Homo sapiens: one gene and its partner. Each later gene encodes a partner of the first gene's protein in a complex. Each region holds a gene or a part of one and is shown in the gene's direction. Other genes may lie near its edges.

Region 1 (7,790 bases):
TTGGCACCCAAACTATCAATAAAATTGGAGGGCTGAAAAATAAATTTTCAGACATTAAAGTTCTTAGAAAATCTCCCGATCTCCCATGCAGTCTTCTTTAGGAGGCTACTGGAGGACGGTCTTCAAAAAAGGGTGCTAAAACGAAAAGGAAGACATCACTCAAACAAATCCCAATATCCTGTGATTTTCCTTGTCTCTCTCTTTTTTTTTATTGCCACGAGAAAACATCAGGTCCTCATTGCCTCTAGTCTAGAGCTAGTTTCTTAAGCTATAATGTGCATACTATCATTCCAGATCTTGTTAAATTGCAGATTCAGATTTAGCAGGTCTGGAGAATCTGAGAGTCTGCACTTCTGACCAGCTCCCAGTTGCTGTTGCTGATCTGCAGCCCCTACTTTAAATTGCAAGGAGGCTTCTGGACTACTGGAACAGCCTAACTGGTCTCTTCTCCAGCTGTGCCACTCTTTCACCTTCCTTTTCTCCAGTTCTTGGAACAATTTTCCTAGGACAAAGCTTTGATTGTGGTTTGACATTTCATCTCATATTCTGCATCAAAAAGAAGTAACTGCCTTAGTTACTCTTTTCCACCACACTAACCTTTGTTTCAACAGTGTGTAGCCTAAAGCTTATCAATATGAGTTTTAAAAATGCTAGTAACATCTTCATGTTCAAGGTATCTAATTGATTCTTTTATATCCACTGGTGTTTGTTTAATTTCTGCATGTTTTTATTTCCAAATTCTTATTCTTTTAAAAATGTCATTTCAAAAATTATTTGAATTGCGTCTAGAGTGAATTCTTCTTCCATTGTTACATTTGTGTGTTGTCTTTCTTAATATTATATATCTTCCATTGTTTTTGAATTTTGGTTTATAAACCAATCTTGAGAGCTCTCTCTCTCTCGCTCTCACTCTCACTCTCTCCTCTCCCCGTGTGTGTGTGTGTGTATGTGTGTGTGTGTGTGTGTGTGTGTGTGTGTGTGCTTATATCCCCCAGACTAGCAGTGATAGTGGAAAATTGCAAATTATGTTGCTTGGCTCAGTTCTGTTAGCAAAGTTATATCCTCAGACTGTTGGCAAAAAATTCTTTCAATGTCTATTCACAAGTAGGGGAGATGGTTAAGCAATAAGGCTTGGTTATCTATTGCTATGTAACAAATCACCCAAAAACTTAATGTTTTGAGACAATAACGATTTATTATTTCTCATAATTCTGTGGGTTAGTTAGGATCAGCTAAGTGGTTCTTTCCACATAGTATAGGCTGAAGTCACTCCAGTGGTTATATTAAATTGGGAACTCACTTACTGCTGGAATGCCCAAGATGACCTCTCATTCTTCAGGGCTTCTCTCCATGTGGCTTGCCATTATCCAATATCTTGTCTGAGCTTCACAGCATGGTCATTGGCTTTCAAGAGGAAAGGTTCCAACAAGATGCATCCCAGTAAATAAACACTTATTAAGCATCTGTGGCATCTCATTTGGCCATTCCAGTCACATGCTCAAACCCAGAGCCAATGTGGGAGAGGATTAGACAAGGCTGCCAATATGGAATACTGGTTTATTGAAGGTCACCGTTGTAACAGTCTCTCACAAAACTGGTTCCTGTATCAAGCCACACATGGAACCCTGTTAGTCTATTATTCTACAGGGGCTGAACCCTGGTTCACATCTTCCTGCTGCCACATACAGAATCCAGGACCTAGGTGGCTTTGTTCCTGATCACCATTTTGCGTATTGGTTCTGTTTCTGATACACGGAAATGTTTATCTTCTTGTTTAAATCACAGGTAAAACATTAAATTTTCTCATTTATATTGTATCACTTATTGTTATATTTGAAGCAGAATCAGGAGTTAGGAGTCTCAAAATACTAATTGAAAATGTGATCTTGGCTGGAAGTCCGCCTCAACATCAAGCCCATTTTCCTTAGTAATATCTTCTACCAGTTTGCTCTAACCTTCATTGATAATGCCACTCTTCTTCTGTCTGCCCACTTTCCCTTCTCTTTTCCTTTGTGATTACAAAGCAGTGTTTGCTGGACAGCACCTGTCTGTACCTCATTCATGTTGTTCTTGGAATTACCCTGTTCCCAAGAGTTGCATGACACCATCTACTTATTCTTCTAGCTAAATGCTGGCAGCTAGAAATACTCTTCCCCTTTGAACTCCCAATATTTTTCTTATATTTCTCTTATGGCATTTATCACTTCCTGCTTTTTATCGTAGATATTTACATATGCCTTAACTCTGTATTGTTTCCTTGCAAGTAAAGCTCATGCCAGGTTTTCTCTGCATCGTGCTTTGTACACAGATAGTAGGCTCTCAAGACATGTTTGTTGCCTTCGCACTCCAAGATTATCCCAAAGAGCTAATTTACATATGAAGTTGCAAAAACTGAATTTCAAGGGAAGATGATATCTACATTTATTTTACATCTTCATCATCTCAGGTCGTTTAATACTAAAACTGGTACCAATTGCCCTCATATTTTATTAAGTGCAATCAGAATATAATGCATGTAAGTATCTTAGTCTAATTTTAGTGGTTCCGGAGAAAATTCTCTCAAGACATACCTTGAGACCATACATTAAGGCAGGACACCATAATTAGAATCATCTCCAGATTTATATCTTAATCTTGCTACTACAAATTTCTTTTGACTTTTTAGAATATAGCCTTAAATGGAGACCTTTACTTAACTGACTATAAATGAAGTCATGTACCCAGGTGAGATTATGAACCCTTGGGAGTCGGAATCATGATTTATTTATCTTTTAATGCTCAGTGCCTAGGACAGAAGCTGGAGCTTTAAATAAATGTTCAATGTTTTCAGACTTTGTTGGAACAGCCTGCAGGCTCCTCAACGCCCTCCCCCACAGAGACTCAGCAACAGTGTGCCTCTATTAATATCTATTTATAAAGGTCAGCCTATTCTATATTTGAAACACAAAGAACCTTTTAAGAAAGGTGGATTTCTTTTGACTATTGATAACATGTACAGGAAAAGCTAGAAAAAATAAAAAGCTGTTGAAACACAGGGACTATGCTTAATATTTCTTGTATTCCCCACAAGGCCTTTTACAGAGCAGACATCCAGTAAATGTTTGATGATAAAAATAAGAAATATTTGTTATATTTTGAAAAAAGATTCATGGTGGAATTTCAAACGTGTACTGTGATCAGAACTATGGCAGGGGCAAACCAGGGGCTCAATAAGTGAGGCTTAACCCTCATTTATACCTTCCAGGATTTCTACCCCCACTCTTTGTCTTAAAACCTATTACAAAAATGGAAAGGAGGCCAAATGCTGTACCTATCTGGTAATGTCGCTGTTATCTGTGAAACCAACTACAAATTATAAAGCTTAATTAAGTGTCCTTGAGTCTTCATCACTGTAATTCTCCGATGCTTCATCAATATTAACACAGGGCAAAGTATCGATTGCTACTCTAGTCTTACTCATCAACTCATTAATTCGCTTCAAATCTCACAACTAAAATGCTCTTTCAATGATGTTATTGCACTGTAATTTGTATAAGGTACACTCCACGAAATACTGTCAATACATTTTATTGTGAGCATCTAATATGTGTCAGGGAGTGTGCTGACATTGGGTAAAGAAATTCATGTATTAAACTAAAACTTCCTCAACATCCATTACCAAGAACAGATCCTGCCTCAGTTTACTATCTGGCAGGGAAGGCAGACATTTAACAAGCAAATACAATTTCCGTTTTCAGAAAGAAGTCCATGTGAGATCTCAAGAGACAAGTAATCAAGGATCAGGGTGAGGAGGGAGAATGCAATCAGGCAAACAACTTGAATATCATCTGATAAATGTTATACTTTGGCCAGCATGTGGCCAAAGTACTATTAAAATTAAAAAGTGAGAGTATTTCATTCTCTGGAGGCTTGGGGAAAGCATCAGAAAGGAGCAGACATTTTCAGGGATGAATAGGCTTACACTAGGCTTAATAAAATGGGTGCCAGTAACGGTGGCTGTGATGGTACTCAGAAAGGAATTTCTTCTCGAAAACGCACGTATGGCAGGGATGGGGGATTCCAAGTACCAGCTGTGACGCATGGATGACCGTCATACCACTCTCACTGATTCTTTAGCTTCCTAGTCAAGCACCATCGTAACTAGTTGAACCAGTCGAGTGGGAGTTGATATTTCAGATCAGACCTCGTATGTTTCCCTCAGAGTGTAGAATTGCCATATAAATAACAGGATGTCTAGTTAAATTTACATGTCCGATAAAAAACGAATGTGTAGTGAAGTCCCCAATATTTGGTACATGCTTGTATTAAACATCATTTGTGCTTTATCTGAAATTAAAACTTCATAGTTTCATCTGTTTTGACTTTTTGTGTATTTTTATTTATTTATCTGGCAAACGTCCCAGAGCGGTAAGAACCGGCACGGTTTTGCCGTGGCACAGCTGATTACAAACAAAAAGTCTCTCCAATCAGAAGCAAGCGCGCAGAGAACTGGCGTCCGGAATAGAGACGCTGTAACCAGGAAACCAGGGTGAGCACCCACCCTACCGTCGGCCGCTTCTAGGAGACGGGCGCAGGCGCGCGCTGACGTTACATCTCGCGCTTAAGGGTGGGGACGACAGAGCGTCTCTCTCGGACGTGACCTCAGCGCCTCTTTGTGATTGGCTGCCTCGGGGGCGCGGCCCTTGGGCGCGGACGCCCTAGATTGGTGCTGCGGAACAGCAGGGAGGGACTCCGGCTGCAGCCGCGGGAGGTCCGGACACTGGCGGCCATGGAACTCACCGGTGAGTGCGCGTCGCGCCGCCCCTCTCCAGCGCTCTGGGCCGCTTTCGGATGGGGCTGTTCTGCGCGCGTGGGATCGTGGCGGGTGGTGGAGGGGGTGAAACCGACCCGGTTCGAAGCCCGGAAGTTGGGTCGGAGGGTCTCCAGAGTAGGTTGGGGCTGAGGGTGCGTTTAGGGCGGACGCGCTGGGTTCCTTGGCTCAGGCGGGTGGGTCGAGGGACTGGGGTCTCCGGAACCCCGGGCCTGAGACCAACGTCCACTCTTTGGTTGTTTTCTTTCTCTCTTTGGGCCTGGCCATCCCCGCCATGAACCCAGCGGGGTCGCTGTCTGAGCAGGGGTATCCCCTCCTTGGCCCGAGCGTTTCCCCAGCGACCTCTCAGGGAATCAGGGAATGAAGCTCAGACAGTGCCCAGGAATTGTCGGTGGAAGTACCATTCTCTTGACCCACAACTCCTGCCAGGTCTCCCTAAGGTTCTTCAGGAACCTCTACTGCTAATGATTGCCCAGGGCTCGTTGGTCGTGGTCGAGAATTTTACGGTAATGTCTTTGCCACTTTAAGTGGCTGGGTGGGAACCTTGGACAAATCACTCAACTTGTCTGGGTTCTCATTTGTAAAACGAGAGAGGTATTCACTAGAGCTCCAAGCCTCATTTCGGCTTTAAGAGCTAAGATTCTGCGATTGTGCAGCATAATGAACTTTTATGTCAAAGATGTTTGGACTGAAAACCTGGCGGAAGTGGGCAGACTCCTCACAGAACGTTGCAGGCTAATGACAACATTTTAAATGATATCATTTGGTTCATTACTCACTGTTTTTGCTATCGTTCATCTTTTAAAACTGGTAGAACTGGAAGTTCGGGTTTAGGTGACCACAGTAAGAAAATGTTAGTTAAGCCACCTAAAAGTACAAACTTGGGGAATTTCAATATTTGGTAATATTGAATCTTAATTAGTAAACTCAGTCAACAAACACTTCTGGGGTCTTTCCGAGAGTATATTTAAAATGTAGATGAGGCCGGGCACGGTGGCTCACACCTGTAATCCCAGCACTTTGGGAGGCCGAGGCTGGTGGATCACCTGAGGTCAGGGGTTCGAGACCAGCCTGGCCAACATGATGAAACCCCGTCTCTACTAAAAATACAAAAATTAGCTGGGCTTGTGGTGTGCGCCTGTAATTCCAGCTATTCAGGAGGCTGAAGTGGGAGAATCGCTTGAACTCGGGAGGCAGAGGCTGCAGTGAGACGAGATCGCTCCACTGCACACTAGCCTGGGCAACAGAGTGAGACTCCGTCTCAAAAAAAAAAAAAAAAAAAAAAAGTAGATGAATTTGTTGGAGAGACTAGACAGTTAAGCCTTTGCACATACAGTTAATTGGCATTTTCTGAGTTTGCAGGTGAAACCGGAAACTCAGAGCTTTAGGATGGCTTCTCATTGTATAGTTGTTTGTTTTCTGGAGCCTTGGAAATCTCATTTGTAAAGCTGAGGAAGATTTTGACTAGATATCCAAGATTCTTTTTAGCTTTAAGTGTCTAAGAATGTACAGTAGTACTAAATATTGAGTGGGCATTTCACATTAATAAAGCTTTAGGGGACCCCTGAGATAAACATTTCGCACTTTAAATTGAGAAAATGGTCCCAGATACAGCCCATCTCTAGTTTAGCCTTTATCTTTAGACACCGCACTGAAGGGAGGGACACTCATTGAGTTTGAAAGGCCTGCATAACTGATAGAAAAGTTTAAAAAGTGAAGGGAGCAGTTACATAATCACCCTCTTTGGTTTTTGTGTTTCTGTTTTTTGTTTTTGTTTTGTTTTGTTTTTTTGAGATGGAGTCTCGCTGTGTCACCCTGGCTGGAGTGCAGCGGCGCGATCTCGGCTCACTGCAACTTCGGACTCCCGGGTTCAAGCGGTTCTCCTGCCTCAGCCTCCCGAGTAGCTAGGACCACAGGCAGGCACCACCACGCCCAGCTAATTTTTGTATTTTTAATAGAGATGAGGTTTCTTCATGTTGGCCAGGCTGGTCTTGAACTCCTGACCTCAGGTGATCCACCCACCTCAGCCTCCCAAAGTGCTAGGATTACAGGCGTGAGCCACCGCACCCGGCCTAAATAATCACCCTCTTTGAATAAGGAAGGAGAACATGTGTGCAGCATGTGCTCTGGTGACATTTGAAAAAGGTGCTCTCAAAAAGATAGTTCGAGCTCCGGGTGTGTTTTAGTGTAAACCACAAAGGTAATGCTAGCAAAACTTTGAGAGTAATTGAATCAGTGGCTAAGCTATAGAGCAGGGGTTGGCAAACTTTAGTAGAGGACCAGATGGTAAATATTTTCAGCTCTGTGGGTCATATGGTCTCTGTTGTAGCTACTCTGCTCTTGTAGCACAAAAGTAGCCATTCACATAAATGAATGGGCACACCTATGAGCCTATAAAACTTTACAAAAACAGGCAGTGGACCAGTATAACCGAGTTTGGATCCTGGCCTGTTTTAGTTGTCTGTTATTTTTTACCAAACCACCCCAAGACGATGTAAAACAATAGCCATTTTGGTATGTTTCATGATACTGCAGTGAGCTAGGCTCAGCTGGGTGGTTCTCTTGGTCTTGCCAGTGGTCACTAGGAGGCTGCATTTAGCTGGTAAGTTGGCTGGATGGCTGGGCCTCTGGCTCTTTCCATGTAGTCTCAGAGCTCTTCCTTCTCCATATTATCTCTTCCCTTGTCCCTCTAGCACAGTAGATGGATTCCTTACACTTTGGCTTAGGATATCTAAGAGTGCACAAGTGAAAACCACCACACCTTGGAAATCACCACACCTTTTTTAGGCCGAGGCCAAAAATTTGCACATCACTTTCACTACCTTCTATGGGCTAAACCAGGTCCAAATGCAACGGGAAGGGACTATACTATAGAAGGGCATAAATACCAGAAGACATGACCGCTAATGAATCAGACTGCTACATTGTGTTACCTCTAAGCACTGAATAACTGAACAAATTTCTTAACCCCTTTAAGCTT
Region 2 (7,798 bases), on another chromosome or scaffold:
ACTCATCAGAACAAAGGGTAAAATATATGACTAGATATTTCATAAAAAGGAAACAAAGACAGTTCATAAACATACAAAAGATGCTCAATCTCATTAATAACAAAAAATGCAAATTAAAACCACAATGATGCATCATTTCATACCCATTCCATTGGCAAATATTAAGTCTGACAATAACAAGTGTTGGAGAGGTTGTAGATCAACTGTAACTCTTACACACTGTTGATCAAAGTATATAAACAGACAAAACTGCTGGCCAAAGTACAAACTGATACAACCCCTTCAGAAAGTAATCTGACATTATTTTGTAAAGCTGATCATTCATACCCCTTGATCTAGCAATCCCATTTCTAGCAAACAGCTTACTATAGTGATACGGCAGTATTTCTTTCTCTTTTCTTTTTCTTTTGCTGCTGAACAAATTAACATGGTGGTATTTCAACCTTTTTTTTTTGCTCGCAAACCACCAAAAGTGCTTTTTAAAATTGCATACCCTTTACCCATTAAGATGACATTTAAAAAATATCACCATAAGATTAAATAATTGCAAAGGGTGAATTTCTAGAACATCACAGTAACATTTTAAAGTAAAACTGATTATCTCATTCTTTTAAATGTATAATTATTACCAGCATATGGTTGGCCAAAAAATATACCCTGATAACATAAAAAAAAAAGCAACTTTATTGGAAATATCTCTCTTAAGGAAATGGATGGGGAAGTGCCAGGATTAAAAGAGGCTTTCCCTAACACTATAGTGGTATTTTAAATTATCCCTTTGTAGGCCAGGCGCGGTGGCCTGTAATCCCAGCACTTTGGGAGGCCGAGTCGGGCAGATCACCTGAGGTCAGGAGTTCAAGACGTGCCTAGCCAACATGGTGAAATCCCGTCTCTACTAAAAATACAAAATTAGCCGGGTGTGGTGGTGCGCGCCTGTAATCCCAGCTACTCAGAGGCTGAGGCAAGAGAATCACTTGAACTTGGGAGGCAGAGGTTGCAGTGAGCCGAGATCGTGCCATTGCACTCCAGCCTGGGCAAAAAGAGCAAAACTTCACTCAAAAAAAAAAAAAAAAAAAAAAAAAATCCCTTTGTTTTCCCCAAGGGAGTTTTCCCCCTTTGGGCAATGCCATAGTAAGATTCCACAAGAACCTGTGGTTTGCCTGTCTTATGTAAAGTGCAATGTTAGAAACACAAGGTAAGAAAGTAGCACTAGCAGGAGGCCTCAGGCATTACCATTTTTAGGAAAGAGTACCTATGGAATGTAATGATCTAGAAACTGATTCATTAACATCATTTGTACCCACACATTCCTTAGCAAATCTTCATTACTCCTCTGGGGCTCATATACCCCAGTGTGAAAATTAGAAAAATTCTTACAACTGTGAACCAAAAAGTATATAACTTCATAACAGCAAAACCTAGAAACAACCAAAATGCCCATTAACAGAAGAATGCATACACTGTGTTATATTCACACTTGGAATATTACACAGCAGTGAAAATTAATGACTTACATCTATACCCAATATTAGTAACTCAGAAACATAACATCAAGTGAAATAAGCAAGTCCCAGGAAACTATACCCAATATGATTTTTTCCACTCAAAAACAACAGAAACCATACAATACATTTTTGAGGGATGTATACATATCTGATAAAATTATTTTTAAAAACAAGGCATAATATACACAATTCAGGATGGTAGTCACCTCTGGAAGTAAGCACATTCAATACTGGTCATTTTGATTATTGGATTGAGTGGTGAATTCATAGGTGTTCATTTTATTGTTCTGCTATACAGCTTGCATATGTTTTACATATATTTTGAATTTATCAAATACTACAATAAAATGGAGAGGAAAAGAAAAATTTTTTAAACATTCATCATAAGAAAAAAAATACTTTTAATTAAATCACCTCACCTGCCACTAAAGAGGTACATATTTAACATATCATGGAAATTCTATCTATACATCAATCATAGGATCTGACATACATTAGGTATACAACAAATGTTCATTGGAATTAATCTTATGAGAACCAAAGGAGATAAAGACTAAGCCAATTAGCTATAAGAGATAAATCCATAGGCTGACACAGGGCTACAAGAGAAGCCAAGGTGGCTACAAGCAAATTTAGCAGCAACCAAAAGTCATAAGGAAGCTGGTCAGTAAAGAGATGGCAAAAATGTAAAGTCTCATAACATAAAGTGTTAGCAGGGTTGTGAGGAAATTGTGTTCTCACTCAACACCAGTGACAGTGAAAATTGGTACAACCACTTCGAGAGCTTCTGTGATACTTGGTTAAATTGAAGACGCACATAGCCTACAATCCGGCAAATCTACTACTTAGGTGTACTTCCTACAGAAACTTCCAAATGTGTGCACAAGCAGACAAGTACAAAGATATTTATTGCAGGACTGTTTTTAAGAGTCAAAAACTGAAACAAGTTCAAAGTCTATCAACAGGGGAATGTATAAATAAATATGGTATATTCATACAACGCAATTCTATACCAGCAATTAAAATGAATGAACCAAAGATAACACAATCATTCAATTTGTTCATATATAAACCTCAAAATATGATGCTGAGCAAAAAAAAAAAAAGCAAGTTGCAAAAAGGCATGTATATTTTAATGCCATTAAAGTTTAAAAACAAACAATAATATATATTGTGTATGGATTCACCTTGATCAAAGTATAAAATATGCAAAGTAAAGATATACACAAACCTCAACGCAGTGGCTATCTCTAGAAAAGGAGGGGAAGGAACTGAGAGCAATTTTATTTCTTTAAAAAAAAAGAGTATCTGAAGTAAATTTGGCAAAAGATTAAATAATCACGTCTGTAAAATCTGAATCATGGATTGGTTAGCTCCCCCTCTGTATTTGATATCTGAAATATTCCAAAAATTAAAAGAAAAAAAGGAAAATTAGACAATAAGAAAATTGGGCAGAACAAAGACACCAAAACGCAGCCCTTGAGCGCAGAGCACGAAACCTTGAGCAATCGGAGCAGTAGCTGGGTCTCTAAGGGGTTTGAAGTTTCTTACCCTAGGTATCCTTATACTATATCCCATTTTCCTTAGGATAAATCGCAAATTTCTTGCAACAAAAAATGTCCTAACTAGAGTCGTAGTTATAAGGAAAAGGCTCTCTCCGGAGGAGTAAAATCTGTAAAATTTCTACCTTGTTTCCCTCGCCAGGATCTTGGGCAAAATGGAAAGAGATTTAGGTGAATGCCATAAAATACTCTATAAACCATTAAATATCATCAAGAACGCCTAAGGACCGCATCGCCCAGTAGGAGAGTGCATATATTTTGAAAGGTCTCTGCAACTGAGGGGGTTTTGGCGTCCAGGGCGCCACTGGAAAAGGCACGGCGCACTGGTACCAGCCCAAATTCACCTACGTCTCGGCTTCATTTTTTATCTTTGATCCCCCTATTCTGTCTCCTGAACAGGCTGGCTGAAGAGGCCACACTGGCAGCGTCAACACTGCGGAGCAGCTGGCCAGACTCGATCCTGTCCACCCCCCTTCCCATTAGCGTCTGTGGGAGAGAATGCTCAGAAAGAGGCGCGGGGGCGAGGGGAGCGGCGAGGTTACCCCCCTCCTGGGTCCGTTCCGTGGGGACAGGCCCTGGACTGGACTGCCAGTTCACACGAAAACAGGTGGCAACAGAGTCGTGACACGCACACACAGCAAGGGGTGTGCACGAACGTTCACGCTCACCAACGAAACCTGCACACAAGAGATACCCACTCGACAGAATTAAATCCGCACACAAGAGATCACGCACTCAACAGGACCCATGCGCAGACACTCTGCGTCACTCGGAGACACGCAAGGACGCACACTTGCGCGAGCAAGGCTCTAGGCGGGGGTCGCAATTGCAGAAGGCGCGGCCACGCGCGCTAGGGGACGCGCAGCCCACAGACAGGGGCAGTAACACAAAGGGGGGCCACCTGCAAGGCCGAGAGCGCCCACGCAGCCGCCAGGGAGCGCGGACACCGACACAAAAGGGGCGACGAGGCGACACGCGAGCGCCTCCACCCAGCGGAGGTGTCAGCCACGCACCGGCCGAGGCACGGGCAGCGGGGGGTTGCGCACAAAGGGACTACTCACACCCTCGCACCGGCATCCCAGGGCCTCGCTCGCGAAGGGGCACCAGACCAAGGGGGCAAACCCACTGGGGTAGGCAATGGCGGCCACACCCCCTCATCGCGCGGGACCCAACCCATGCAGACACAGTAGGCACCTCAGCGAGGGACGCGAGGAGACGCGCACACACCCACACTCACCACACACCCACGGAGGGGGTGTGGAAGGCCCCGCTCCCCCGGCATCTCGGCTGCAGCGGGACAAGGTGACACATCCGGGAGCCCGGCAGCGCGCCGGGTGTGCACTCACCCGGGCCCGCCGCCCGCGAGCCTCGGACGCGGGCAGCAGCAGCAGCAGCCGCCGCCGCCGCCGCCGCCACCTCCGGCCCTCCACGTCAGCCGACGGCGGGAGGGAGCGGGTGGCGGCGTTGAAGCGAGGTGCGTCACGTGGGCTGGCAGCGCGCGTGCGCAGTCGCACCCCACCGCCCCCTCCTTCGCCGTCGCGAGCCGCGGGATCACGCCCGCCCCCGCGCTCGCTGGCTCCCACCCGGGGAGGGTCGTTGTGCGCCTGCGCCAGGGTGGGGGTTGCCGTCGCGCCTAGGCCTTTCCCTCAGGTTTTCCTCTTCCCCACTGCGGCTCCCCAGTCGGCGCTTGCGCGGAGAACTCAGCGCTGAGGTGGCCGAGGTGTCGGGAGGGGCCTGGGTGGGCGTATGAAGGACCCGAGGTCGAGGGCCCCCCCATACCCCGCCTCGAATGAGAAATAGAAGTCTCCACGAATGGGCAGGGCCCGGGGCCTGGGCGCCGCGACCTAGTAGGCCCGCATGCTGGTGGGCGCCGCGCGAGCCTTGTTCCCTGCCCTCCCCTCCCACAGGGAGGCCACGCTTGCAGAGCTGGAGCGCGCGTCTATCGCCCCAGAACCCCCCTCCCTGCCCTATCCTCCGCCACCCCTTCTGTTGCGGGGCGCGCGCCAGCCTGGGTGTCTGTATGCGCTCGAGGCGGGGGCGCGGGTTGCGGACGGAGGCGCGGGAGGCGGTTCTGCGCGGCGGGGGCCGTACCCGCGGCGGAGCGAGGAGGCGAGAATGGATCAATGGTGCCACGGAGCACATCGCTGACGCTGATTGTGTTCCTTTTCCACAGATTGTCTAAAGCCCCAGGAAAAATGGTGGAAAATTCACCGTCGCCATTGCCAGAAAGAGCGATTTATGGCTTTGTTCTTTTCTTAAGCTCCCAATTTGGCTTCAGTAAGTACTTTCCTGATGGATGGCCAGGGGCTTTTTCTGGCGTTCAGTGACAAGGGAAGAATACATTGGTTAGACTGTGCACACATGAACTGTTGATTCTTTCTCCCTATGTCTCTTTTTAAGAAAATCTGAAGGGATCTCGTGTTTGCTGAGTGTTCCGTGTGCCAGCACTAGCCTAGGAGGTTTTAGTCTCTACAAATATTTATACAGCACCAGACGCGATGGCAAAGTGGATAAAGCCTGGTCCCTGCCCTTAAGGAGGTCGTGGTCTTGTGGAGGAGACAGATGGGTAAATCTACAGTTAATGCTCAGTGTGATGAGTGTCAGGGAGCACGGTGGAGAGACATTGAAACCAGACTGGAAAGTCAAGGCTTTCTACAGAGGCCTTTCCCCCTGGCACTGATGCTGATTAGGAAAGAGTAAGAGGGAGGGAAGAAGTGGAAAGGCCTTGAATGAGGGCGTGAGAGGGTTTGGACCCGAGGAGCTTGTGATGTCACCAGTGTGCCCTGCGGGATCTGGGGAACAGGAGAAGTAGGCCAGAGAAGTCGGGTTGAAAGGTGTGTCGTTTGCGTCCTGGATCTCCCTTAATTTAACCCCATAACATTCCATTTTACAGATAAGGAGACTGATGCTCACTAAGACACTAATATGCCCACTCACACAGCAAGTCCCAAGTCTCTCCCCAAAATGATTTGAGAATTTTGAGGCACACAAAAGGGAGAAAATTGAGTGCCCGTGATCCAACGTTCTGCAACTGTTTGGAAACCAGGAAAGTGGAGGAGTGGTAGTACTTCTGAACCCTAACTAAAATATATCAGCCTGCACCATCAGCACAGCTTGCAGATGAATGTAATGGCCAGGCTATTAAAACTGAAGTGAAGTGAAGAAGTTACAACTGAGTTCGAATTCTGACTCCTCCACAGATTAGCCATGTGAGCTGGGACCCTCAGCAAATTTTTTGAGCCTCAGGTTCCTTATCTGTAAAAGGGTAGTGATAATGATGGTTATTAAATGCTTATGACGCATGAAACAGTTCTATGGGGTAGGTTCTGTTATTACTGTCCTTTAAAGATGAGCATCCTGTGGTTTCAGTAACTTGCTCAAGATTGCAAAGCTACTAAATAAAAGCCTTCTAAATTTGAACCCAAATACACTGGCTGACTTCACTCTGCTGCCTCTTCTGACTGTTGTGAGGATTAACGGGGGTAATTTATGTAAAGCACGTAAAATAATGCCTAGGAACAGTTAGGGACTTAATAAGTGTTAGCTACTGATGTTATTGTTAGCACTTTTGTAAATCCTTGTTCAAAGAGTATGTCAAGGATTAGAAGCTATATGAATAAATAAAAGCAATCACTTTAAGGCTTAAATTCTGGCCGGCCTGGTGGCTCACGCCTGTAATCCCGGCACTTTGGGTGGCCGAGGCAGGCAGATCATCTGAGGTCGGGAGTTTGAGACCAGCCAGACCAACATGGAAAAACCCTGTCTCTACTAAAAATACAAAATTAGCCGGGATGGTGGCGCATGCCTGTAACTCCAGCTACTCGGGAGGCTGAGGCAGGAGAATCGCTTGAACCCGGGAGGCGGAGGTTGCCGTGAGCTGAGATTGCACTTTTGCACTCCAGCCTGGGCAACGAGCGAAACTGTCTCAAAACAAAATTAAATTCCATCATACCCACAACCAAAAAGTAATTCAAGTATTTATTGGTGCTTACCATGTGCCAGGCACTGTTACAGGCCAGGAAGGACCAAAACAGCCAAAAATGCCCTGCTTTGAGTCTTCATTCTCATGCCGGGGGGAGATAGTCAATGGGCAAGTTAAATAAGAAAAACGTATATAGTATCAGGTGATAACGTACTATGGGGAGAAATTAAGCAAAGGGAAGGAGGATACGAAGTGGAAGGAGGGCCTTCTAATGTGCTTCTATGTCATCTTTTATTACTCATTCGTGAGCACTTGTAACAATGTAGTGAAAATACCAATTTTCTCTATTCACCACTAGATTTTAAGTTTAGGGAGGGCAGAAGCCATCTCTTTTGGATTCAATATTGTGTCTCACACACCTGACATACAGAATTCTGTAATACATATTTGTTAAGAAAAGAATGCATCATCACTGATGTAGTAGGTAGTTAAAATTTATCTTTGCCGCTTACCTTGGGTAGGTGATGTATCCTTTCTAAGCTTCCATTTCCTCATCATTTAAAATTGCATACTTGCCTTGGAGGATTGTCTTGGAGGATTATCTTAATGCATACAGAATGCTTGGAACTGTGCTTAACCCACAGTGAGTGCTCAGAACTTAGCCATTGTTGTTATCGTGGGATAACAGTAAAGAGTGCCGAGATTTCGGATTGAGGGAAATAACATTGTACTCTGGGAGATAGGGCAGAAGCTCAGTATGTGGTGGATGAGAACTAGGGTAGGTAAATTTCCCTTTGAGCAATTAAATG

What was found.
Region 2: PIGA (region 1) and PIGP share a complex: the UniProt entries of both Homo sapiens proteins name them as parts of the glycosylphosphatidylinositol-N-acetylglucosaminyltransferase (GPI-GnT) complex.

What each region holds. Positions count from the first base shown.
Region 1 is NC_000023.11:15,332,492-15,340,281, reverse strand, and holds the start of PIGA (phosphatidylinositol N-acetylglucosaminyltransferase subunit A), read left to right. Parts: upstream 1-4,758; 5' UTR 4,759-4,768; coding exon of another isoform or gene 4,769-4,781; intron 4,782-7,790. UniProt on the Homo sapiens protein: Catalytic subunit of the glycosylphosphatidylinositol-N-acetylglucosaminyltransferase (GPI-GnT) complex that catalyzes the transfer of N-acetylglucosamine from UDP-N-acetylglucosamine to phosphatidylinositol and participates in the first step of GPI biosynthesis.
Region 2 is NC_000021.9:37,069,980-37,077,777, reverse strand, and holds the start of PIGP (phosphatidylinositol N-acetylglucosaminyltransferase subunit P), read left to right. Parts: upstream 1-4,706; 5' UTR 4,707-4,778; exon of another isoform or gene 4,779-4,930; intron 4,931-4,974; exon of another isoform or gene 4,975-5,190; coding exon of another isoform or gene 5,191-5,262; coding exon 5,263-5,344; intron 5,345-5,467; exon of another isoform or gene 5,468-5,629; coding exon of another isoform or gene 5,630-5,633; intron 5,634-7,798. Other genes in the region: E3 ubiquitin-protein ligase TTC3, read right to left, coding at 4,295-4,349. UniProt on the Homo sapiens protein: Part of the glycosylphosphatidylinositol-N-acetylglucosaminyltransferase (GPI-GnT) complex that catalyzes the transfer of N-acetylglucosamine from UDP-N-acetylglucosamine to phosphatidylinositol and participates in the first step of GPI biosynthesis.